Linked DNA regions of Homo sapiens: region 1 is linked to region 2. The links come from fine-mapping of genetic effects on gene expression. A gene starts in region 2. The other region holds a variant in brackets. All regions are shown on one strand. Distances are between the middles of the regions.

Region 1 (12,124 bases), 32 kb after region 2:
CCTTCAGCATTCTCCCCAAAGGACTATCTGGGGGAATGTCAGAGGGAGTCTCTTTGGCTCCCTCTTTGCTTTGTACCCTAGGTTTAGGATTTCTGTTTCCCATTTTTGATCAGCCTCTATGTCTGAGCTTTCTTCCCTGTGTACTCGACCCGCGCTACTAGAGGTTTCTTGCACACCCTGAGCATCGGTTTGTCCGTCTCTGGCTGTTTGCGTCGCAGGAGAACGGAACCGTGGATTGGGACTCCGCACTTGCTTCATATCTAAGATACATCTCAGTTGCACACACTTGACCTCTGAAAATGCCCAACCACTAAGGCAGTACTTACAGTCTAATTTTCCTACCTGGGCTCCTGCACAAGGTTGCCTGGTTGCTGCAGTGTGTGCTTTTCTCCCTGTGTTGTCTCTGCTGCCTCTGGAATAACAGTCTTGGGTTTGTCTATGGCCTCTGCCGGGTGCTGGAATACCCAGACAGAGCAGGCCACCTAAATTGATGGGATGTGTCTCCCCCTTGACCGGAGTTCCACTCCATGCAGGCACAGAGATCCTGGTTGGGCCCCCAGGTTTGTGAGAAACACACATTCACCCATGCAAACCCAAAAAATGGACTTGGAGACACCATCCCGTGTGTGGTAGGCAGGCACACCTGGGGCAGTTACGACAGGCAATTTATCTCCTAGCACACAAGTCCCTCCCCCAGTTCTTCATTGGTTGAGTACTGTGGAGTTACAATCTTCCCAGATGTGTAAGTTTTATTATCACCCTTAGAAGGTTATATCCTCGTCCCCTTCCCCACTTAAGTTTCGATTTCCCAATAACGAAACTTTCTTTCCTTTTATGGGCTGACCCCTCTTCTACAGTCTGTTCACTTATCATGACCTTCTAGGTGCATGAGCTGTGCAGTTTGTTACATCCGCAGGCTGGCTGCCAGTCCTTAGGTTTATTATGACTTGAAAATGGACCATTTAAAATGTTTTCTCACACCCCTAATCCCTACCACATTTGGTTGGACAAACTTGACAATTTAGACCATTCAGCACATGATAGATGTTTTAGTCAAGGTCTTGACCCCAATTGCACAAATCCTTTAGTTTGTAGAACTTTGCTGTGGATTGGCATGAATATTCTAGCTGCAGTGATATATCCCTCTTGCTTGCTGTTAAGTATCTTATATCATTGTACTTGTTTTAGGACAGTGTGTCAGTCCTTTTGAATATTGTGAGCTACTTTTTGTTATGAGGGTAATGCAGGGCTCATAAAATGAGTTTGGAAGTGTTCGTGCCTCTTCTGTTTTTGGAGATTATGTAGAATTCGTGTTATTCTTTAATGTTTGGTAGAATTAGGGCTGGGCACGGTGGCTTACGCTTGTAATCCCAGCACTTCGGGAGGCTGAGGCAGGGGGATCACCTGAGGTTGAGAGTTCAAGACCAGCCTGACTAACATGGTGAAACCCCATCTCTACTAAAAATACAAAAATTAGCCAGGCGTGGTGGCACACGCCTGTAATCCCAGCTACTCAGGAGGCTGAGGTAGGAGAATTGCTTGAACCCAGGAGGCAGAGGTTGCAGTGAGCCGAGATCTTGCCACTGCACTCCAGCCTTGGTGACAGAGCGAGAATCCATGTCAAAATAAATAAATAAATAAATAAATAAATAAAGTTTGGAGCCAGGCATGGTGGCTCACATCTGTAATCCCAGCACTTTGGTAGGCCAAGGTGGGCAGATCACTTGAGGTCAGGAGTTCAAGACCAGCCTGGCCAACATGGTGAAACCCTGTCTCTACTAAAAATACAAAACTTAGCTGGGCGTGGTGGCACATGCCTGTAATCCCAGCTACTCAGGAGGCTGAGGCAGGAGAATCACTTGAACCCGGGAGGGGAAGCTTGCAGTGAGCCAGGATTGCTCCACTGCACTCCACCATGGGTGATAGAGTGAGACTCTGTCTCAAAATAAAATAAAATAAAATAAAATAGTTGGTAGAATTCAGCAGGAAAATAATTCTAGTCCCGGGATTTCTTTTTAAGAAGCTTTGAAGTTAGTGATTCAATTTCTTCAGTAGAGAGAGGGCCGTTTTTTCTTCCAGTGTGTTTGGTAGTTTGTGATTTTCAAGAAATAGGTTCATTTCATCAAAGTTGTTGAATTTATGAGCATAGCGTGTTTATAGTATTCTCTTATTTATCTTTTTTAATGTCGGTGGAGTCTGTAGTGATGTCCTTACTGATATTGGTGATTTTTATTTATTTTCCTTTGTTTATCAATTTTAATTATCTTTTTAGAGAATCAGGATCTTTTGGTTTCATTGATTTGCTTCAAAGTTTTTCTGTGTTCAGTATTATTTACTGCTCTTACCATTGCCCTCTGCTTGTTTTGGATTTATTTTGCTCTTTTTCTAATTTCTTAAATGGGGGGCTTAGATTGTTAATTTGAGACATTTCTTCTTTTCTAATATAAGCATTTGAAGCTGGGCATAGTGAAGTGTGCCTGTAGTCCCAGCTACTTGGGAGGATGAGGTAGAAGAATTGCTTGAACTCAGGAGTCTGAGGCTGCAGTGAGCTATGATTATGTCACTGCCCTCCAGCCTGGGCGACAGAGCAAGACCCTGTCTCTAAAATATATAAGCATTTGAGTCTATAAATTTTCTTCTGAGCACTGATTAGCTGCATTATACAAATTCTGACATGTTTCTCATTTAGTTCAACATGTTTTTATTTTCCCTTGAGGCTTCCTTCTGTGACCAATAGATTATATAGCCAAGTATTTGGTTGTTTCCAGATAGCTTTATATTAATTATTTCTAGTTTAATTCCATTATGGTGAAAGAACATACTTTGTATGATTTTTGTATGACTTGAATCCTTTTACATTTGTGAAGCTTTTCTCCCCCCACCCCCCCCCTTGGAGATAGGATCTTGCTGTCTTCCTCCAGGCTGGGCTGCAGTGGTGTGTGATCACGGCTGGCTGCACCCTCAACCTCCCAGGCTCAAGCAGTCCACCCACGTCAGCCTCAGCCTCTTGAGTACCTGGGACCACAGGCTCACACGACCACGTCTGGCTAATTTTTATAATTTTTTTGTAGAGACCGAGTCTTGCCATGTAACTTAGGCCAGTCTTGAATCCTCCCACCTTGGCCTCCCAAAGTATCGAGACTGTAGGCATGAGCCATTGTGCCCAGGCAAAGCTTTGATTTGTGGCTCAGAATATGGTTGAGTGAATGTTCCCATGTGCATTTGAAAAGAATGTGTATTCTTTTTTAATGAAATGTTCTGTAACTGTGAGGTAGATCCAGTTGGTTGTTGTGGTAAGTTCTACATCCTTGCTGGTTTTCTCCCTATCAATTAACATGAGAGGAATGTTGAAATCTCTAATTATAATTGTGGGTTTATTTCAATTCTATCAATTTTTGCTTTATGTGTTTTGAAGTTTTGTTAGGTGCATACTCATTTAGGATGTTATACCTTCTTCTTGGTGAATTCATCCTTTTATTATGTAATGTCCCTCTTTATCCTTGGTATATTTTCTTGCTTTGAAGTCGGCTTTTTCTTCTGATATTAAAATAATTATTTCAGCTTTCTGTGATAAGTGGTTGCATGGTGTTTGTCTTTCTATCTTTTTACTTCTAACTTACCTCTCCCTAAATTATATTAAAGTGGGTTTCTCTTCTTTCCTCTTTTCTTTCTTCTTGCTCTGTTGCCAGGCTGGAATTCAGTGATGTGATCAAGGCTCACTGCCACCTCCAACTCCTGGACTTAAACAATCCTCCCACCTCAGCCATTTGAGTAGCTTGGGACTAAGGGCGCGTGCCGCCACACCTAGCTAATTTTTAAATTTTTTGTAGAGATAGAGTCTTGCTAGGTTGCTCAGGCTGGTCTCGAACTGCTAGCCTCAAGTGATCCTCCTTCCTAGGCCTCTGAAAGTGCTGGAATTACAGGCATGAGCCACTGTGCCTAGACAAAATCTGGGTTTATTGAAGACAACATATGGTTGGGTCTTTTTAAAAAAATACATTTTGACAGTTTCTGTCTTTTCATTGATGTGTTTAGACCATTGCCTTTTAATGTAATTATTGATATTTAAGACTTAGTTTAAACATAGTATTTAGTTCAAATAATCATTTAATTATTTGTTTTCTGTTCAGTGCCTTTGGTTTTGTTCTTATTTTACCTTTGCTGATTTCAGCGGAGTGTTTTTATATTAATTTTAATTTCTCTATTGGGGTTTTGACTGTTCCTTGCAGTGGTTCTTCTAGAGTTTACAAGTATGCATTTCCCAGTCCACTTAGAATTAATGTATATCACTTAATGTAGAATGTAGAAACCTTAGCAACGTAGAGGCCCCTTTACCTTCCCCCCTTTATATTGTAGTCATTATCGGTAATATACTGATAGGACTTGGCAGTGTCCCCACCCAAATCTCCTCTTTGAAGTCCCACAATTCCCATGTGTCATGGGAGGAACCTGGTGGGAGGTGATTAAATTATGGGGCAGATCTTTCCCACGCTGTTTTCCTGATAGTGAATTAATCTTATGAGATCTGATGGTTTTAAACAAGGGAGTTTCTCTACACAAGCTCTCTCTTTGCCTGCTGCCATCCATGTAAGAGTGACTTGCTCCTGCTTGCCTTCCACCGTGATTGTGAGGCTTCCCCAGCCACATGGAACTGTTAAATCCATTAAACCTCTTTCTTTTGTAAATTGCCCACTCTTGGATATGTGTTTATCAGTAGCGTGAAAATGGACTAATACGTACACCTACCTAAATGGAAAACGACACCAATGTCGAATTTTACCTATTCTTTGAAAAAAAAATTTTTTCCTTTCAGCCATCAAACATTTTAAAGTATTTAAGGGGAGAAGAGTTTATTATATTTACCCAGGTATTTATCATTTCTTTTGATTTCTCTTCATTTTTGAAGTCCCACCTTTCCCTCTGGTAGTTTCTCTTATGCCTGGAGAACTTCCTTTAACATTTCTTTTAGAGCACGTCTGCTGGCTACAGATTTTAGTTTAGTTTAGTTTTCCTGCATCTGAGAATGTCTTTATGACCTTAATTCCTAAAAGATATTTTTGCTGAATATAGAATTTCAGACTGATAGTCTTTTTTTTTTTCCCCCTCCAGCACTTCGGAAGATGCTTTGATTGTTTCTGATGGGAAATTTGTAGTAATTTCAATTGTTATTCTCTAATGTCATGCATCATTTCTCTTTGGCTGCTTTTAAGATATTTTCTTGTCTTTGGTTATAGCAGTTTAATTGTGATATATCTGGATGTGGATTTCTTTCTGCTTACCCTGCTTAGTGTTTGTTGTACTTCTTGACTGTAATTTTGTCTTTGGAAATTTTGGAAATTTTCAGTCATTTTTTTCAAGTATTTTTTCCTGAATTACTCTCTCTCTTATTCCAGGACTTTGACATGACTGTTAGTCCTTTTTATATTGTCCCACAGATCCTGTTCATTTCACAGTTTTGTTCATTTTTTAAAAAAAAATTTTATTGTGGTAAAATAACTTTTTTTTTTTTTTGAGACAGGGTCTCGCTGTGTTGCCCGAGGGTGGAGTGCACTGGTACGATCTTGGCTCAGTGCAACCTCTGCCTTCCAGGTTCAAGTGATTCTCATGCCTCAGCCTCCCGAGTAGCTGGGACTATAGGCATCCACTACCATGCCCAGCTAATTTTTGTTTTTTTGTAGAGATGGGGCTTCACTATGTTGGCCAGGTTGTGTCTTCAAGATTTTTAAGTGTTCAGTGATGTTAAGTACCTTCATATTGAATGCAACCATTACTGCTATCCATCTCCAGGAACTCTTTTTATCTTGTAGAACTGAAACTCTGTACCCATTAAACAGTAACTCCTCATTCACCCCAGCACCACCCTAGCAACCACTATTCTACATTCTGTCTATGATTAGTCTTGCTCTGTTGCCCGGGCTGGAGTGCAGTGGCACGATCTTGGCTCACTGCAACCTCTGCCTCCGGGGTTCATGTGATTCTCCTGTCTCAGCCTTCTGAGTAGCTGGGATTACAGGGGCATGCCACCATGCCCGGTGGATTTTTGTGGTTGTTTTTGTTTGTTTGTTTGTTTTTAAAGTAGACTTGTGTTTTCACTATGTTGGCCAGGCTGGTCTCGAACTCCTGACCTCAAGTGATCCTCCCACTTCAGCCTCCCAAAGTGCTGGGATTACAGGCCTGAGCTCCTGGGCTTGGCCCAAGTTACTATCCTTTCATTTCAACCTGCAGAATTCCCTTTATTTTATCTTACAGGTCAGGTCTAGTAGTAATTTCCTCAGCTTTTGTTTATCTGGGAATGTTTTAATTTTTCTCCAACTTCTGAAGGACGTTTTAGCTGAAAATAGGATTCTCGGTTAACAGTTTTTGTTTTTTCATTTAGCACTTTGAATATATTAGCCCATTGCCTTCTGAATTCTGAAGTTTCTGATAAATCTGCTGCTACTATTGATTATTTATATTTGATGAGTTGCCTCTTGCTGCTTTCAAGATTATATCTGTCTTTGTCTTTTAATAGCATGTTTATAATTTGTCTTGGTATAGATCTCTTTAAGTTCATCCTACTTGGAGTTTGATGAGCTTCTTGGATGTTTATGTTCATGTCTTTCACCAAATTTGGGGAGTTTTGGGTCATTATTTCTTCAAATTATGTCTCTGCCTCCTATTATCTGTCTTCTTTTAGGACTTCCACAGTGTGCATGTTGGCTTTCTTGATGGTGTCCCATAGGTCCCCTGGGCTCTGTTCACTTTTCTTCATTTTTTTTTTCTTTCTCTGACTCAGACTGAATAATTAATTCCATTTGTCCTATCCTCAGGTTTGTTGATTCCCCGT[GC/G]CCCCCCACCCCCGCCTGGTCAAATCAGCCTTCGTGTTCCTCTAGTAAATTTTGCATTTGCTTTATTGTACTTTTCAACTCTGAACACTTTCTTTTTGGCATCTTTTTCGGTTTTCTACCTCTTTATTGGTATTTCTATTTTGTTCGTACATAGTTTTCTTGCATTTTTCTCAGTGTTTTTTTTTTGTTGTTGTTGTTCTTTGAGTACCTTTAAGATAATTTTTGTGTGTGTGTGTGTGTTGTTTTTGTTTTTGAGACAGGGTCTTGCTCTGTCACCTAGGCTGGAGTGCAGTGGCGCGATCTCAGCTCACGGCAACCTCCGCCTCCTAGGTTCAAGTGATTCTTGAGCCTCAGCACCCCTAGTAGCCAAGACTACAGGTGCGCACCACCATGCCCATCTAATTTTTGTATTTTTGTTAGAGATGGCGTTACACTATGTTAGCCAGGCTGGTCTCAAACTGCTGACCTCAAGTGATCTGCCTGCCTCAGCCTCCCAAAGTGCTGGGATTATAGGCGTCAGCCCCCGCACTTGGCCTAAGATAATTGTTTACTGGTCTTCCTCAGGGTCAGTTTCTGTTGGTTAATTTTTTTTCCTTTGAATGGACCATACTTCCCTGTCTCTTTTATGCTTTGTGATTTTTTTTTGTTGAAAACTGGAAATTTGAATCTAATAATGTTGTAACCCTGGAAATCAGACTCTCCCCCTTCCCCAGAGTTTACTGCCTTTTTTTTTTTTTCAGTTGTTCGTTTGTTTGGTTTTGTTTTTTGAGACGGAGTCTCACATTGTCACCCAGGTTGGAGTGCAGTGGCACGATCCTGTCTCACTGCAACCTCTGCCTCCCAAGTTCAAGCGATACTCTTGCCTCAGCCTCCAAGTAGCTGGGATTACAGGCACACACCACCATGCCCAGTGAATTTTTGTATTTTCAGTAGAGATGGGGTTTTGCCATGTTGGCCATGCTGGTCTCCAACTCCTGACCTCAAGTGATCCACCCGCCTTGGCCTCCCAAAGTGCTGGTATTATAGGCCTGAGCCACCATGCCCGGCCTCAAATGGGATTTCAGGCATGCGCCACCACACCCAGCTAATTTTTGTGTTTTTAGTAGAGATGGGATTTCACCATGTTGGCCAGGCTGGTCTTGAAATCCTGACCTCAAGTGATCCCTGTCCCTGCCTCCCCGCCCCCAGCCTCCCAAAATGCTAGGATTACGGACATGAGCCAGTCACTGTGCCCAGCCATGATTCTTCATATGTTCAGTTATTTTGGATACTTTTGGATTCTTCTTTTATTCTTCTTCATTTTTCAGTTGTTTTGGATACTTCGAGTACTGCGACATTCTAGGTTTTGTTTAAATCCTGTGGAGAATATTGATTTGTTATTTTGTTTTGTTATAGCAGACAGTTAACTCAGTTTAGGCCACAAGATCCAACCCACCTTCTATGGGCTTTGGTTCTAATATGATGTTAGTTTTCAAAGCCTTGCTGGTGCTATTTGGGTCATTTCTGGCTATGTGCCACACAGGGGTCAACCAGGCACTTGGGTGGTGGTCTACCTTATAGTTTAGTTCTCAAAGCCTTTGTGCTGTTGGGATCAGATCCATATGTCACAGCTTGGGGGTGAGCCCAGGAGTTCATACACAACTTTATCAGATGTATTACTCCAGTTCGTTCCCTTCTGAGTTTCCTTGATACTGTCTTAGTCTCCCATCTCCCACTTCCTGGTCCTGAGCCTGGAAAGCTTGAGGCTCCTGCCTTTCCCTCAGTTGAATCTGTCTCAGGGGCCACAAGGTAGGAGAAGGAATCGCAAAAAAACAAACAAAACAAAAAAACCCCCAAAGCAACACAGGTTCTTTCTCCATACCACTCTACTCCCTCCCCTCCCCAAAGCACTTAAGTTAGACCACAGTTTTCTGGTCAGAGAGGATTTTCTTCTCCGTAAGTACAGCTGGTCCATAGCTGCCTTAAGTGTGCACAGCTTCCAGGCTTGGTTTTGTCTGGTTGCAATGGCAAGAGAGAGGGTGGAAATAATGGATTTCTCCCACTCTGTATTCCTCACACTCCCAACCTTATCGCCCCCCATATACACACACATACCTTATACCAGAAAGAGAAATCTCCTCTTGGAGCTTTATCTCTTCATGGCTGGTATACATTTCTAGAAATTGGGCTGCCTTTGTATCCAGACTGGAAGATTGGGAGAAAACAAGCAAAAGTAAGAAAGAGCACCAGATAGATTGTGCTTCAAGTTCTAGTTCCCTTCTCAAATCTATCTGCTACCATTTACTTTTCAGAGTCCTCAGATAGGTTTTTTTTTTTAATGTATTTTGAGATGGAATCTTGCTCTGTTGCCCAGGCTGGAGTGCAATGGAGCGATCTCAGCTCACTGCAGCCTCCGCCTCCTGGGTTCAAATGATTGTCCTGCCTCAGCCTCCAAAGTAGCTAGGATCACAGGTGCTCACCACTTTGCCACCACTCCCGGCTCATTTCTGTATTTTTAGTAGAGGTAGGGTTTCACTATGTTGGCCAGGCTGGTCTTGAAATTATGACCTCAAGTAATCTTCCCACCTTGGCCTCCCAAAGTACTGGGATTACACGTGTGAGCCACGCGCCCAGCCTGGGGCATGCATTCTGTCCAGGGTTTTAGTTGTATTCAGTGGAAGGAACAGGTAATGGTATTCAGTGGAAGGAACAGGTAATGTCACGTTTCATGGACCGTGGGTGATGGTAGCAAACATTGAATGCTTTCCCTGTACCAAGCACTGTTCAAAATGCTGTATGTGTTTTAATTCATTTTACTTTTAAACAGCTCTGTGAGGTAGAGACTGTGGTTATCTCCATTTTATATTTGGGCAAAGTAAGGCATTACAAAGTTAAGGAATGTGTAAGAAGGGCACACTGATAGGCAAGAGGTAACGTCAGAGTTGTTACCTAGTGTGACTGTCTCCAGGGTCCGTTATAACCACCAGAATAACACTGCCTGTATATCATTGTTTTAACATTTATTACCTGAAAAAATGAACAGGGTCTCTTAGAGTAATTCGAGAGCCACTGAAACTCTTTATGTTATACCGAAATGGTTGTTTATCAGTTATGTGACTACTGTTTTAGTAGGCTTTATAAATGACATTTAAAATTTCATTTTATTAGTCCCTTGATTCTGTCTTACTTTAATAGGTCTTGATAAAGATTAGGCTTTTTAAATTTTAATGAATATGAAATTCATTCTGTTGTTTATGGCTTACAAATTTGTAGTATATGCTGAAGTCTTCCTCCGTAAGGGATTTATTTGTTTTTCTAAAACTGAAGGACAGCAATGCATGGTGGCTCATGCCTGTAACCCCAGCACTTTGGGAGGCCAAGGTTGGAGGATCACTTGAGCGCAGGAGTTCGAGACCAGCCTGGGCAACATGGCAAAACCCTACATGCGGGCATGCACCACCACGCCTGGCTCAAATTTTGTATTTTTGGTACAAAATACAAAAGTGAGCCAGACGTGGTAGTGTGTGCCTGTAGTCCCAGTTACTTGGGAGGCTGAGGAGGGAGGATCCCCCGAGCCCGGGAGGTTGAGGCTGCGGTGAGCCACGATCGCATCAGTGTACTCCAGCTTGGGTGACAGAGTGACTCTGTCTCAAAAAAAAAAAAAAAAAAAAAAATGCCAGGTGCGGTGGCTCATGCCTGTAATCCCAGCACTTTGGGAGGCCGAGGTGGGTGGATCACCTGAGGTTGGGAGTTCAAGACCAGCCTGACCAATATGGAGAAACCCTGTCTCTACTGAAAATACAAAATTAGCTGGGTGTGGTGGTGCATGCCTGTAATTCCAGCTACTTGGGAGGCTGAGGCAGGAGAATCCCTTGAACCTGGGAGGTGGAGTTTGGGGTGAGCTGAGATCGCGCCATTGCACTCTAGCCTGGGCAACAAGAATGAAACTCCGTCTCAAAAAAAAAAAAAAAAAAAAAAAGAGAAAAAGAAAAAAGACTGAAGGATTTTTGTTACATACATATCTTACTAAGATCATTTGGGTAGCTCTAGAAATCCCCCTTTTTAAGTTCAGTAATAGAAACCTAGAAATAGATTTAGAAAGAAACTTTTTTACAGTTTTTTTTTATGAACAAGCAGCATTTGTACTCATAGAAGGGCACACAATGACAAGTCTTTTTCTCATTTTAGTTCCCAAAATACCCAGTTTTCCCAAGAAAGAAGAAAATAAACTTCTAAATAAAGTTATTTTCTTAATTTTAAAAAGTTTTTATGTTAGAAACGCAAACATTCAAAAAGTAGTACAGATGTTTAGAGACCAACCAGGACAATAGTATCAAGGCCTGAAAATGTGACTGGTATACTAATAACCTCAACACTCATGCTCCCTACTTAAGAACCCCACACAGCCTGCATGTGAACGGTAATCATCTTTTTATATAAAAATGCAGGTGTTTATTAAGGATTATGGCCGACCTTTGATTTTCATGGGAAATATATCCAGATAACTTTAGTGACTTCACAAGTTGACAAAAAGTGTTATTTGCTTGAGCTCTCTAGCACTAAGATTTCTTTTAGTGTCCCTTTTTATGTTGCTGTTGGCTCATCAATGTTTCTGAATATTTGAGTGAAACTGCTGGTTGGTTGACAAGGGATACTCACTAGCAAACTAATCACAGACAAGCAAGTTGAATTTTTATTCAGCAGTTTTTTGGATATGGATTTAGTAGCACCGTTATTAGAATGCTGTTAATGAAAGGTAGAGTGATCATATGAAATAATCTTTAGAGACCTTTTAAAATGACTATTTTTCAGGAGTAGAGGTAAGCAAGAATGAGTTTTCAGGCTCCTAATTGAAATTGTGGTTTGGAGAACATTTTAATCCTCTAGGGTTGTCTTTGTAAAGGAAGTTGCTGCAGAGTAGCTCCCTTTGTATTAACAGGCAGTAGAGTTAGTTGTTTCAAGTGAGTTAGAATTTTAGAATTGGAACGACAGCATGTAATTAGTTGGAGAGTTCCTATGCCATTACGCTTTATAAAAAGTTATCTAGATGTGATATGACCAGTTGATCCCCTGTAATAAAAACAATTAATTTTCTAGAGAATTTTTATCTGCTGTATTCAATTTTCATAGCATAATGCTGAAGAAAATGTAATGAGTTTTTCACTGAGTTTCGTTGTTCCCATTCAAAAAGAACTATTTAAAAATCCATGTTGCTACTATTTGGGATGTTATAGATCCTGACAGGATAAATAAAACTTGCCACTAGTGTTTTTTTGAGACAGAGTCTGGCTTTGTCCCCCAGGTGTCTGTCCTCCAGG
Region 2 (12,124 bases):
CTCCATCCACATCTGTTCCAACTCCCTGCTTTACTAATCTGTGCCAGCCACGCCGACTGTCTTTCTCTGCCCAGAGCATTCTGAACTCCTTCTCCCAAACTGGGTGTTTGCTGTTCCTTCTGCCTGGAATGTGCTTCCACCAGATGTCTGCCTGGATCTCTTTCTCACTTCCTCTAAGTCTTCTCACCCAGGGCCACCTGACCTGAAGTAGAACAGAGTCCTCTCCTGTTCCTTCTCTTGTTCAGCTTTCTTTATAATGTTCAGTACTACATGCTATTATGTCTCAGATTTATTTGTTTATTTTATTTTTTTGAGACAGGGCCTCACTTTGTTACCCAGGCTGGAGCACAATCATGGCTCACTGAAGCCTCTGATCCCTTGGCTCAGGTGATCCTCCTGCCTCAGCTTCCCAAGAAGCTGGGACTACAGGCATGCGCAGCACGCCTGGCTAAGTTTTTAAATTTTTTTGTAGAGACAGGGTCTCATTATCTTGTCCAGGCTGGTCTTGAACTCCTGGGCTCAGGTGATCTCCCTGCCTCAGCCTCCCAAAGGGCTGGGATTATAGGAGTGAGCCACCAGGCCTCATTTCTTAATTTGTTTATTATAGCATATGTCTCCCCCACTGGATTGTAGGCTCCATGAGGGAAGGAATTTTTTTTAAATTTTAAAGCCTTGAAGATATTTTTAATTACTGTTAAAGTAAATTATATTGTGGCCAGGCATGGTGGCTCATGCCTGTAATCCCAGCACTTTGGGAGGCCGAGGCAGGCAGATCACTTGAGGCCAGGAGTTCGAGACCAGCCTGGCCAACATGGTGAAACCCCATCTCTACTAAAAATACAAAAATTAGCTGGGTGTGGTGGCATGTGCCTATACTTCCAGCTACTCAGTGGGCTCAGGCAGGAGAATCACTTGAACCTGGGAGGCAGAGGTTGCAGTGAGCTGAGATCGCACCACTGCACTCCAGCCTGGGCGACAGAGCAAGATTCTATCTCAAAAAAACAAAAAGTAAATTGTATTTTGAACAGACAACCCATTTACATGTTTGAAAAGTCAAAGTTTGCCTCTAGGGGTATGTTGTAGAATAACTAAGATAGGCTGGGCACAGTGGCTCACGCCTGTATTCCCAGCACTTTGGGAGGCCCAGGTGGGTGGATCACTTGAGGTCAGGAGTTGGAGACCAGACTGGCCAACATGGTGAAACCCCATCTCTAATAAAAATACAAAAAAATTAGCCAGATGTGGTGGCACACGCCTGTAATCCCAGCTACCTGGGAGGCTGAGGCAAGAGAATCACTTGAACCTGGGAGGTGGATGTTGCAGTGAGCTGAGATTGTACCACTGCACTCCAGTCTGGGCAACAGAATGAGACTCTGTCTCCAAAAAAAAAAAAAAAACAGTAAAATAAAATAGGATAAATAAATAAATAAAAGAAAAAGAGAAAAGTCAAAGTGGTCTAAAAGTTATCTAGACAAGTCTCATTTCCATTTCTGCCACCGGACATCCAGTTTTTCCTACCCCCATAGGAAACCATTTTTATTAGTTTCCCAGTATTTCTTTATGCAGATACCATACACATATGCTTATATATGTATATATATGTATAAGCATATGCTTATATATGTATATATATGTATAAGCATATGCTTATATATGTATATATATGTATAAGCATATGCTTATATATGTATATATATGTATAAGCATATGTGTTATTATTTTCTCACCTTACATTCCAAATATCATTACGTACACAGTCTGAACCCTGGTTTTTTTGTTTTTTTGAGACAGTCTTTTTTTTCTGGGAGAGGGAGTCTTGCTCTGTTGCCCAGGCTGGGGTGCAGTGGCATGATCCCAGCTCACTGCAAGCTCTGCCTCTCGGGTTCATGCCATTCTCCTGCCTCAGCCTCCCAAGTAGCTGGGACTACAGGCGTCCGCCACCACTCCCGGCTAATTTTTTGTATTTTTAGTAGAGATGGGTTTTCACCATGTTAGCCAGGATGGTCTCGATCTCCTGTCCTCGTGATCCACCCGCCTCAGCCTCCCAAAGTGCTGGGATTACAGGCATGAGCCACCTCGCCCAGCCTTGAGACAGTCTTAATCTGTCACCCAGGCTGGAATGCAGTGGTGCAATCTCAGCTCATTGCAACCTCTGCTTCTTGGGTTCAAGGGATTCTCCTGCCTCAGCCTCATGAGTAGGTGGGATTACAGGCATGCACCATCACGCTTGGCTAATTTTTGTAATTTTAGTAGAGATGGGGTTTTGCCATGTTGGTTAGGCTGGTCTCGAACTCCCGGCCTCAAGTGATCTGCCCCCCCCCCCCCCAAAGTCCTGGGACTACAGGTATGAGCCACCGTACACAGCCATGAACCTTGATTTTTTTTTGTTTCTTGAAAATATTTCCTGATCATCATTCCTTATCAGTTGACAGATAACTTTCTTCTTCTTGTATTTTTTTTTACAGCTGCATAGTATTCCTTTTTGGGGACACATCCTGGTTAATCAGTTCCCTATTGATAGACACTAATTGCTTCCCATTGTAAACTAAAAATAAAATCCTGGGCTGGACCCGGTGGGTCACGCCTGTAATCCCAGTACTTTGGGAGGCTAAGGTGGGTGGATAATGAGGTCAAGAGATCGAGACCATCCTGGCCAACATGGTGAAACCCCATCTCTACTAAAAATACAAAAATTAGCTGGGCTTGGTGGCTCGCCTGTAGTCCCAACTACTCGGGAGGCTGAGGGAGGAGAGTTGCTTGAACCCGGGAGGCAGAGGTTGCGGTGAGCCGAGATTGCACCACTGCACTCCAGCCTGGCAACAGAGCGAGACTTGTCTCAAAAAAAAAAAAAAAATTCCTGGGCTGGGTGTGGGCATGGTGGCTCACGCCTGTAATCCCAATACTTTGAGAGACTGAAGCAGGAGGATCACTTCAGCCCAAGAATTCAAGGCTGCAATGAGCTATGATCTGCCATTGCACTCCAGCCTGGGCAACTGTGCTCGACTCTGTCTCAAAATCAAATAAACAAACAAACTAAGTCCCCTCAACTGACTAAACAGATCCTTCCTGGACAAAGAGATCCTAGGAAAATCTTTTTTTTTTTTCTTGAGACGGAGTCTCGCTGTCGCCCAGGCTGGAGTGCGGTGGCGCCATCTCGGCTCACTGCAAGCTCTGCCTCCCGGGTTCCCGCCATTCTCCTGCCTCAGCCTCCCGAGTAGCTGGGACTACAGGCGCCCGCCACCGTGCCCGGCTAATTTTATGTATTTTTAGTACAGATGGGGTTTCACCGTGTTAGCCAGGATGGTCTCGATCTCCTGACCTTGTGATCCGCCCACCTCGGCCTCCCAAAGTGCTGGGATTACAGGCGTGAGCCACCGCGCCCGGCCTATCCTAGGAAAGTCTTAAAAACTGAGTTCCTTCCCTCCACAAGATGGGAAGTCAGTCACACCTGGTTATACCTCCTCCCTTATGTCGTTTAGAAACAACAAACGACCGGCCGGGCGCGGTGGCTCAAGCCTGTAATCCCAGCACTTTGGGAGGCCGTAGGCGAGCGGATCACGAGGTCAGGAGATCGAGACCATCCTGGCTAGCAGGGTGAAACCCCGTCTCTACTAAAAATACAAAAAATTAGCCGGGCGTGGTGGCGGACGCCTGTAGTCCCAACTACTCGGGAGGCTGAGGCAGGAGAATGGTGTGAACCCGGGAGGCGGAGCTTGCAGTGAGCCGAGATCGCATCACTGCACTCCAGCCTGGGCGACAGAGCGAGACTCCGTCTCAAAAAAAAAAAAAAAAAAAAGAAAGAAACAACAAACGACCAACATTAACGTTAAAATAGAGATCACAAGACTGACAGAACAGACTCTTTGTGACAATTAGATACCAAATTATAAACAGGACCTAAGGCCATACTAGGCAAGAGTTAAATGACTAAGTGCAAGGTTTCTCTTTTTCTCTACCAGCTAAACCAGCACTGGCCTGGAGATAAACACAATTAAAACAGTTACAACTCTCTGCCAGATGCAGGCTAACTGACCTGTTCCACAAGCCTAACTATGGCTTTGATTAGACAAGAGACTGATTTCTGTAACTTTCTCCTGTTAAGAGACAACTAACCATGCATCCATGCATTGGTTCTGGCTGGCTTTTTCTTTTCTTTCTTTCTTTTTTTTTTTTTTGAGATGAAGTCTCGCTCTGTCACCCAGGCTGGCGTGCAGTGGCATGACCTCGGTCACTGCAACCTCTGCCTCCCGGAGTCAAGCGATTCTCCTGCCTCAGCCTCCAGCATAGCTGGGATTACAGGCGCGTGCCACCATGTCCCGCTAATTTTTGTATTTTTAGTAGAGACGGGGTTTCACCATGTTGGTCGGGCTGGTCTTGAACTCCCAACCTGAGGTGATCTGCCCGCCTTGACCTCCCAAAGTGCTGGGATTACAGGCATGAGCCACTGCACCCGGCCTGGGCTAATTTTTTGTATCTTTAGTAGAGACGGGGTTTCACCTTGTTGGCCAGGCTGGTCTCAAACTCCTGACCTCCTGATCCACCTGCCTCAGCCTCTCAAAGTGTTTGGATTACAGGCTGTGAGCCACCGCGCCCAGCCCAGTTCTGGCTGGTTTTACAGAGGCCAAGCACTTCAATACCTTTCCCGTCCCTGATTCACTTTCTGATGTGGAGGGCCTGATTATAATACTTTTACTTTATTTATTTTTTAATTGTTGTTTTTTGAGACGAGGGTCTCACTCTATCACCCAGGCTGAAGTGCAGTGGCATGATCTCAGCTCACTGCAACCTTCGCCTCCTGGGTTCACACAATTCTCCCACCTCGGCTTCCCAAGCAGCTGAGGCTACAGGTGCATGCCACCACGTTCGGCTAATTTTGTATTTTTAGTAGAGATGGGGCTTCACCATGTTGGTCAGGCTGGTCTCAAACTCCTGACCTCAGGTGATCTGCCCACCTTTGCCTCCCAAAGTGCTGGGATTACAGGCATGAGCCACCGCGCCCTGCCTGATTATAATACATTTAAATGTTAAGTCGCCACCCCAAATGAACATAGGTCATATGCAACATACAGATTTGTTCACTATGTGTGTAAGACCACCTTCATACATATTAATAGCTCCTTCCATAAGTTAAATATGTTTACTTGGCCAACTCCTCAATATAAATTCTTGTTGCACCCTTCCCTCTCTCAAAGTGCTTACTTTTGTTTTTTTTGGCCCGAGGCTGCACGTCCTGCCTACAGCTTATAATCCCCTTCTTAAGAAATAATGCTCTCCTTTCTAAATTTATAAACGGTGTCATTTTTAAGTTAACACTATCTTTTGCTACTACCAAAAATGTAGGACAGGAATTTTTATTCCACGCCAACTCTTCCAGAGTCTTGAAGTCTTCCTGCAGATTGTTAATGAACAATTATAGCAAAAAATGAATGAATGAATTAACGAATGTATAAGTGGATGAATGACGAATGAACCAACAATGAATGAATGTAGAGAAAGCCTCAAGGGGGCCCGAGGGTACGCTGTGCTGCGGAGCATGCCCACCAGGTGGCGATGCCAGCGGCGGGCGGGCCTGGCCGGATTGGCCGCGCCGCTCTTGCCGTGGGTGCCGACGGCGGCGCCGGGACGGGCGTGGGGGGTAGGGCGAGTCATATGATCCGCTCGGCTTCCTGGGTCTGGCTGCTGCCGCCCGCCGGTGTCCGCCCGTGTCGCGCCGGGGCACCAAGGAGCCGTTGGAGGGTCCGGGCGGAGGCCCGCTCGTGTGGAAGTCGTCGACGCCGCCGCTCGTCCGTCCTCCCGTCCGTTCTCGCTCCCGGCCGCCATCATGCTGGCGCTCATCTCCCGCCTGCTGGACTGGTTCCGTTCGCTCTTCTGGAAGGAAGAGATGGAGCTGACGCTCGTGGGGCTGCAGTACTCGGGCAAGACCACCTTCGTCAATGTCATCGCGGTGAGCGCCCGCCCACTCACTCGCCCGGGGCTCCGCAGCCAGGAGTCCGGCCCGGCGCTTCTCCAAGGCCTGAGTTGGGGCCCCCCTCGGCGCGATGGGACTGATGGCGGGGGGCGTGCGAAGCTGGGCCTGTCATCTCCCGAGGGCCAGCATTTGGAATTTCCCGCGTGTTGGCGGCGCGGGGAGTAGCACTGAGATCGGCAGCGGAAGGGTTAAGTCAGTGTAGACATTTTCCAAGGGCTGTGTCCTCAACGCCGCGGGGGCTCGGAAAGAGTTAAATTGAACTCGTCACATTTTTAAAGCGCTTGGGGATTGGGGTTTCCCTTGGGTTTGCCCAGTAGGGGCAGCCAAAGAGTTAAGTCCAGTCTGTCACTTTCCCAAAGGGTGGGATTTGGCAAATCCGTCAGCCGTACGAGAAAGCGTAAGCATTAAGAGCCTCTCTTAAGTTGCCACTTTGGACCAATAGACCCATTGTGAAAGCGGGAGACCAGTGTGAGCGCCTTCCTGAATTCTGTGGGCCGCTGGTCCCATCTAATTCAGTTACTTGTTTTCACCCGTCCCCCAGGCGCGGAGACCAAGCTCATTGCTGAGCTCCAGCTAGCCCACAATACATAGTATTTATTAAGCTAAGAGTTAATTGTCTTAAGCGACTAGATAAGATGGATCTGCAGTTAGCATAAAGTTAACTACCCTGCGAAAGAGGAGTTGGTCTTTAAATGGTGTTTTTCACTTGAAGAGAAAAGAAGGTACTGGGCAGGAACATAGCTTAGCAGGCCTAGGGAATGGGTGGAAGGAAAATTGCACTGAGGACTTACATAGAATGTGGTGTTTGTTCAGCAATGATTGAGTAGAAAGGTGATTGTTTCGTTTTGCTTGTTTGGTTGGTTGGGAAATAAATAGGAGTGAAAGATTTCGCCTCGATCTTTATTTAGAGCCCAAGAGTTGTTGTGACTCAGTTTTAGCTGGTAGTGGCTTGTACACGCCAGGGGAGTTTTAGAACTGTTCTGAAGAGAGATGGCAGCAGTTCTTCCACCTTTTCGATGACTGTTGAAATCCTGAAGATTAGCTGTCCGACTGGTTAGGTTACACAAGATGATTCAAACACAGCTTTCATGTTTGAGAAAATAGGTAACTTGTGATTCTTAGTCCTTGCACTAATAAAGCAACAGGAATGAGTAAGTCTTGGAGAAAAAGAGATTAGCAGAAACCCCAAAGTCCTTTGAAGAATGATGTATATAAGGAAGATTTACCTGCTTGTTGTTCGGCTCCTTTTCTAGTAGTATTATTATTAATTTTTTTTCTTGAGACGGAGTCTCGCTTTGTCCCCCAGGCTGGAGTGCAGTGGCGAGATCTCAGCTCACTGCAACCTCCACCTCCCAGGTTCAAGCGATTTTCCTGCCTCCACCTCCTGCGTAGCTGGGATTACAGACGTCCTCCACCACGCCCGGCTAATTACTTTTAGTAGAGATGGGTTTTGCTTTGTTGCTCAGGCTAGTCTCAAAACTCCTGACCTCATGTGATCCGCCCGACTCGGCCTCTTAAAATGCTGGGATTGCAGGTGTGAGCCACCGCGCCTGGCCTCCTATTGTAATATTATGATTTTTTGCGCTTGGAATGACTATCTTTCCGCAGGAATAGAAGAGTGGAATGTGTATCTAATACCACTAATTTTTTTTTTTTTTTTTTTTTTTTTTTTCTGGTAGAGACAAGATCTTCCTATGTTGCCAGGCCAGCCTTGAACTCCTGGGCTCAAGCGAGCCTCCTGCCTCGGCCTCCCAAAGTGCTGGCATTACAGGCATGAGCCACCGTTCCTGGCCTAATACCACTAAAATTAATGAGGAAACATGAACTTCGGGTTACATATTTATATTAGAATTTTTTTCTTTTCTTTTTTGGAGACAGGGTCTTGAGCTTTCACCCAGACTGGAGTGCAGTGGTGCAGTCGTAGCTCACTGCAGCCTCCAACTCCTGGGCTTATGTGATCTTCCCTGTCTCAGCCTCCCAAGTAGCTGGGACTACAGGCATGTGCTACCACCATGGCTCGCTATTTATTTTTAATTTTTATTTTTTATAAAGACGGGCTCTTGCTATGTTGCCAGGGCTGGTCTTGAGCTCCTGGCCTCAAGCAGTCTTCCTGCCTTGGCCTCCCAGCATACTGGGATTATAAGCCTGCTAGAGCTTTTATATAATATGGAAAAGATGAGGCATAAGCTTGAGTGAAGTTGAGCTCAGTTAACTGTAAATTTTCTCATATCCCCTTGAGATGAGAATTGGAGTCATCTTGTAAAACTTGCTCTTTGACAACATGGAATTAATGTTTCATGTGGATAGGTGTATTAATACAGCCAGTTGTATTTGTTGCAGTTGAGTTGTTATGCTTGGGAACTCTAAAAAGTTGAGCAAATCTTTGAGAAACTTCTTGGTGATTTTTATGCTTCTGTTTTCAGTAGACAGTGTAGCTTAATGAGCATGACCTTTGAAGTCAGACAGCCCTGGATTTGAAATCTGGCTCTGCCGCTTAGCAGCCTTACATCCTCTTTGAGTCCTTACTTTCCCATCTATTAAATGGAGGTAATGATATGTTTCTTACAGAGTTGCTCTAGGGATTAAATGACATGAAAGATGTTAAGTGGCTAGCACTCATACTGGCCCACAGAAGGGGATAGGTAGATGGTAACTGTTGTTATTTGTAATTGGGCGTACCTGTTTAATGCAGGAACGATGGCTTGAAAAATACTGAGAAGGGACTCAACTGGTATCATTTTCTACTTTGAATCACTGTATCTATCCAGATGTGGGCTGCAGTAGTGGATTTATGGATTGGGGAAAGTAATCGCATCATGTGTTCCCCCCTGCCCCGCCCCCACCATTAGATTATTATATTTAACAACAACAAAACTTCTGCAAAGCTGTTGAAGTCAAAGTGAACCAGTGGCTCCACCATTATCTTTTTTTTTTTTTTGAGACGGAGTCCCGCTGTGTTGCCCAGGCTGGAGTGCAGTGGCATGATCTTGGCTCACTGCAACCTCTGCCTCCTGGGTTCAAGCTATTCTCGTGCCTCAGCCTCCCGAGTAGCTGGGACTACAGGCGACTGCCACCATGCCCAGCTAATTTTTGTATTTTTAGTAGAGACGGGGTTTCACCATGTTGGGCAGGCTGTTCTCGAACTCCTGGTCTCAAGTAATATGCCTGCCTTGGTCTCCCAAAATGCTGGGATTACAGGCGTGAGCCACTGTGCCCAGCCCACTGTTATCATTAGACTATTCTTTTTAAAATTGTAATGGTGTGGGTAGCTTCAGTTAAGAAAAAAAAAGTCACAAAGATAAGGTGATGGATGTGTAATTGGCTTGAATTAGTCATTCCACACTGTAAACATGTATCAGAACATCTCATTGTACTCCATAAATGTATACAATTATGATTTGTCAATTAAAAGTAATATTAATTTAAAAAAGAAAAAAGACATCTGGGCTGTAATTGGCTGTGGCTTTTAAGATGCTGAAAGGGACCCCCTCAGTGAATTTCATACTTTTTTTTTTTTTTAACCTCAAGGCTCTAACCTAACCCCTGATTCTTATAGAATATGTTGAGGATGTAGTGATTAAAATCCAAGTTAGTGATTAAAGATGATTTTAGAGATTTTTAGGTAGAAACAATGTGTCCAAAATAGTAAGTTTAGCCTTTTAAAAAATCAGCTGCACTTTTTGTATTGTATATAAAATAGTTGCTTTATAGAATCAGAAATACAGATGTATTGAGTACTATGTGTCACTCTAGAAAGGTGACCATTTACTTATTCACATTTAAGAAGCGACTTCTCAGGTATGAAAAGCTTCAGCTGAAGCCAATTTTCTTTTTGTAAAAATCAACATTTTGTAAACATTAAAATGTCACTACATGTGCCTTAAACATTAAGGAAGATTTAATAGATGTCATTTAACTTACTCAAAAGGTTCATGAGACTGAATTACTATTATATGTAGGGTTTGGTTTGAGTCTAAAAGATAATGCAGCTTAGTTACAGAATGCTCAGACTTAGAATGCCTTTCCTTAGGATTTTAAAACTGAAATGATACCTAATTTAATCCAGTTTTATGTAGAGACACTTGATATATGTAGTGTTCTCTTTTGTTTTGAACATTATAAAAAAGAAACACCCTAGTCTTGTCTTTTCTGATTAGTGTCAAGGAATGAAGTATTTTTTCCATTGCTAACTGTTCTGGCAGTTATTGCACAATAAGTCATGTGCCTATATGTGTAATGTATATTGAGTAATCTTTATTTTTAACTGGGGCTTTTAGATATGTTATAGTTATTAAAAAATATCTAATAGGATTTGCCAAAATAATATAGGATAAATCTTATGGACATTATGTATTTTTTAAATGGAAGTATAAAAATTTGTCTACACTTTTGCACATTGTTGATACCTGAAAGGTTAATCCAAGGGAAAGTTTATTACTGCTGAGAATTAGGAAAAGAAGATATTTGGGAAGACTGTAGAAATATGAACCTAGAATCATTTTTTAAAGAGTTTGTAGAAACCTTGATTAAGTAGTCTAATTTTCCCCTCATTTTTTAGATGTGGCTAGCAGATCCAGTGAGGTTAAGTGGAATTCCAAGGCAACAAAGCTAATTCGTAGCAGAGATAGAATTAGAATCTGGGGCCAGTGTACTTTCTACTTTTCCCACCTCTTTAGATCCAGCTGAGGTTAGAACCATAGAACTGTGGATTGGGAGATCTTAATCCATTAAACATCTTTTTTGTATTTAATTTAATTTAAAAAATCAGCTGCAGTTTTTGTATCGTATATGAAATGTTTGCTTTATAGAATAAGAAATACAGACGTAATGAGTACTGTGTGTCTCTCTAGAGAGAGCATTTTAAATCCAGGCATCTTAAGCATACTGACTAACATTTGAGGACTATATATTTATCTATGAACATGAATTAGGAGAAGGAATGATAATCTGTGGAAAGTAAGAGTGGAATATTATGTTTGGATATTTAAATAACTGGCTAACAGGCATTACTGAGTTGTTGAACTACTTTTAGTATCTTTAAAAAGCAGAGGGAGATCAAGACCATCCTGGCTAATGCGGTGAAACCCCGTCTCTACTAAAAATACAAATAATTAGCTGGGTGTGGTGGTGGGCACCTGTAGTCCCAGCTACTCGGGAGGCTGAGGTAGGAGAATGGCGTGAACCTTGGAGGCAGAGCTTGCAGTGAGCCAAGATTGCGCCACTGCACTCCAGCCTGGGCAACAGAGCGAGACTCCGTCTCAAAAAAAAAAAAAAAAAAAAAAAAAAAAAGCGGAGGGCCAGGCGCAATGGCTTACGCCTGTAATCCCAGCACTTTGGGAGGCCAAGGCGGCCGGATCATGAGGTCAGGAGTTTGAGACCAGCCTGACCAACATGATGAAACCCCATCTGTACTAAAAATACAAAAATTAGCCTGGCGTTACTCAGGAGGCTGAGGCAGGAGAATTGCTTGAACCTGGGAGGCGGAGGTTGCGTTGAGCCGAAATTGAGCGACTGCACTCCAGCCTGGGCAACAGAGTGAAAATCCGTCTCAAAAAAAAAAAAAAAAAAAAAGCAGAAATAATTTTGTATTTGATTGTATTGCTTATTATTTAATTTCTTTGGAGGTAAGAATGGCAAAAACCATTTTTAAAGAAAATGGGCTGTGGTTCAAGTCTAGATGTTTTACACATCTGAAACTTGACTGGAGAAGCTAGTCTTCCAATAAGGTGGTCTTCAAGTATAGATTCTGAGTTGTGGAAAATGAGGCATCTTACAAAGGAACATCTCTACCTTCCATAAAGTTTTCTACCCTTCATCCCCGCTCCAATTATTTGTTTTTCCTTGCAGACCAAGAATCTTGAAAGCCAAATGTTCTCATTAAGAAGCTGTTAGAGTGCAATAATGCATTCTAAATGCCTGTCTTAGAAGATATTTCACAAGTTAATGGATTTTTTAAGTTTTTCAAAGATATAGTAAGTGGATGGTTACTGAACATGGATACAAAATACATTGAACCTATAAAAAAGTTACTCAAATATTATTAAAAAATTTTTTTTCTGAAATTTTTTTTGTGTTATCAAAACAATACAGGCTCATTAGCGGAGATGTGAAAAGAATAGTATAAGGTAGAAGAAGCCACTTATTTCTACCATCCAA

Evidence for each region. PIP is the estimated chance that this variant, and not a neighbour inherited with it, causes the effect.
Region 1: its variant is fine-mapped to the expression of ARL8B in thyroid (GTEx, PIP above 0.99).

Annotation. Positions count from the first base shown.
Region 1 is chr3:5,148,841-5,160,964 of GRCh38, forward strand. All of the region lies in intron 1 of ARL8B (ARF like GTPase 8B), which reads left to right. Among named protein-coding and RNA genes, the nearest start is that of ARL8B, 33 kb to the left of the region's middle. The variant GC/G (reference allele first, on the strand shown) is at 6,827.
Region 2 is chr3:5,116,645-5,128,768 of GRCh38, forward strand. ARL8B (ARF like GTPase 8B) reads left to right here and starts at 5,648. Exons shown (of 7, transcript NM_018184.3): 1 at 5,648-5,944. The coding sequence starts at 5,822. LOC124906212 (a long non-coding RNA gene) reads left to right here and starts at 6,415. Exons shown (of 2, transcript XR_007095800.1): 1 at 6,415-7,072; 2 at 11,816-12,124. RefSeq lists silencers at 5,454-5,713, 9,100-9,394.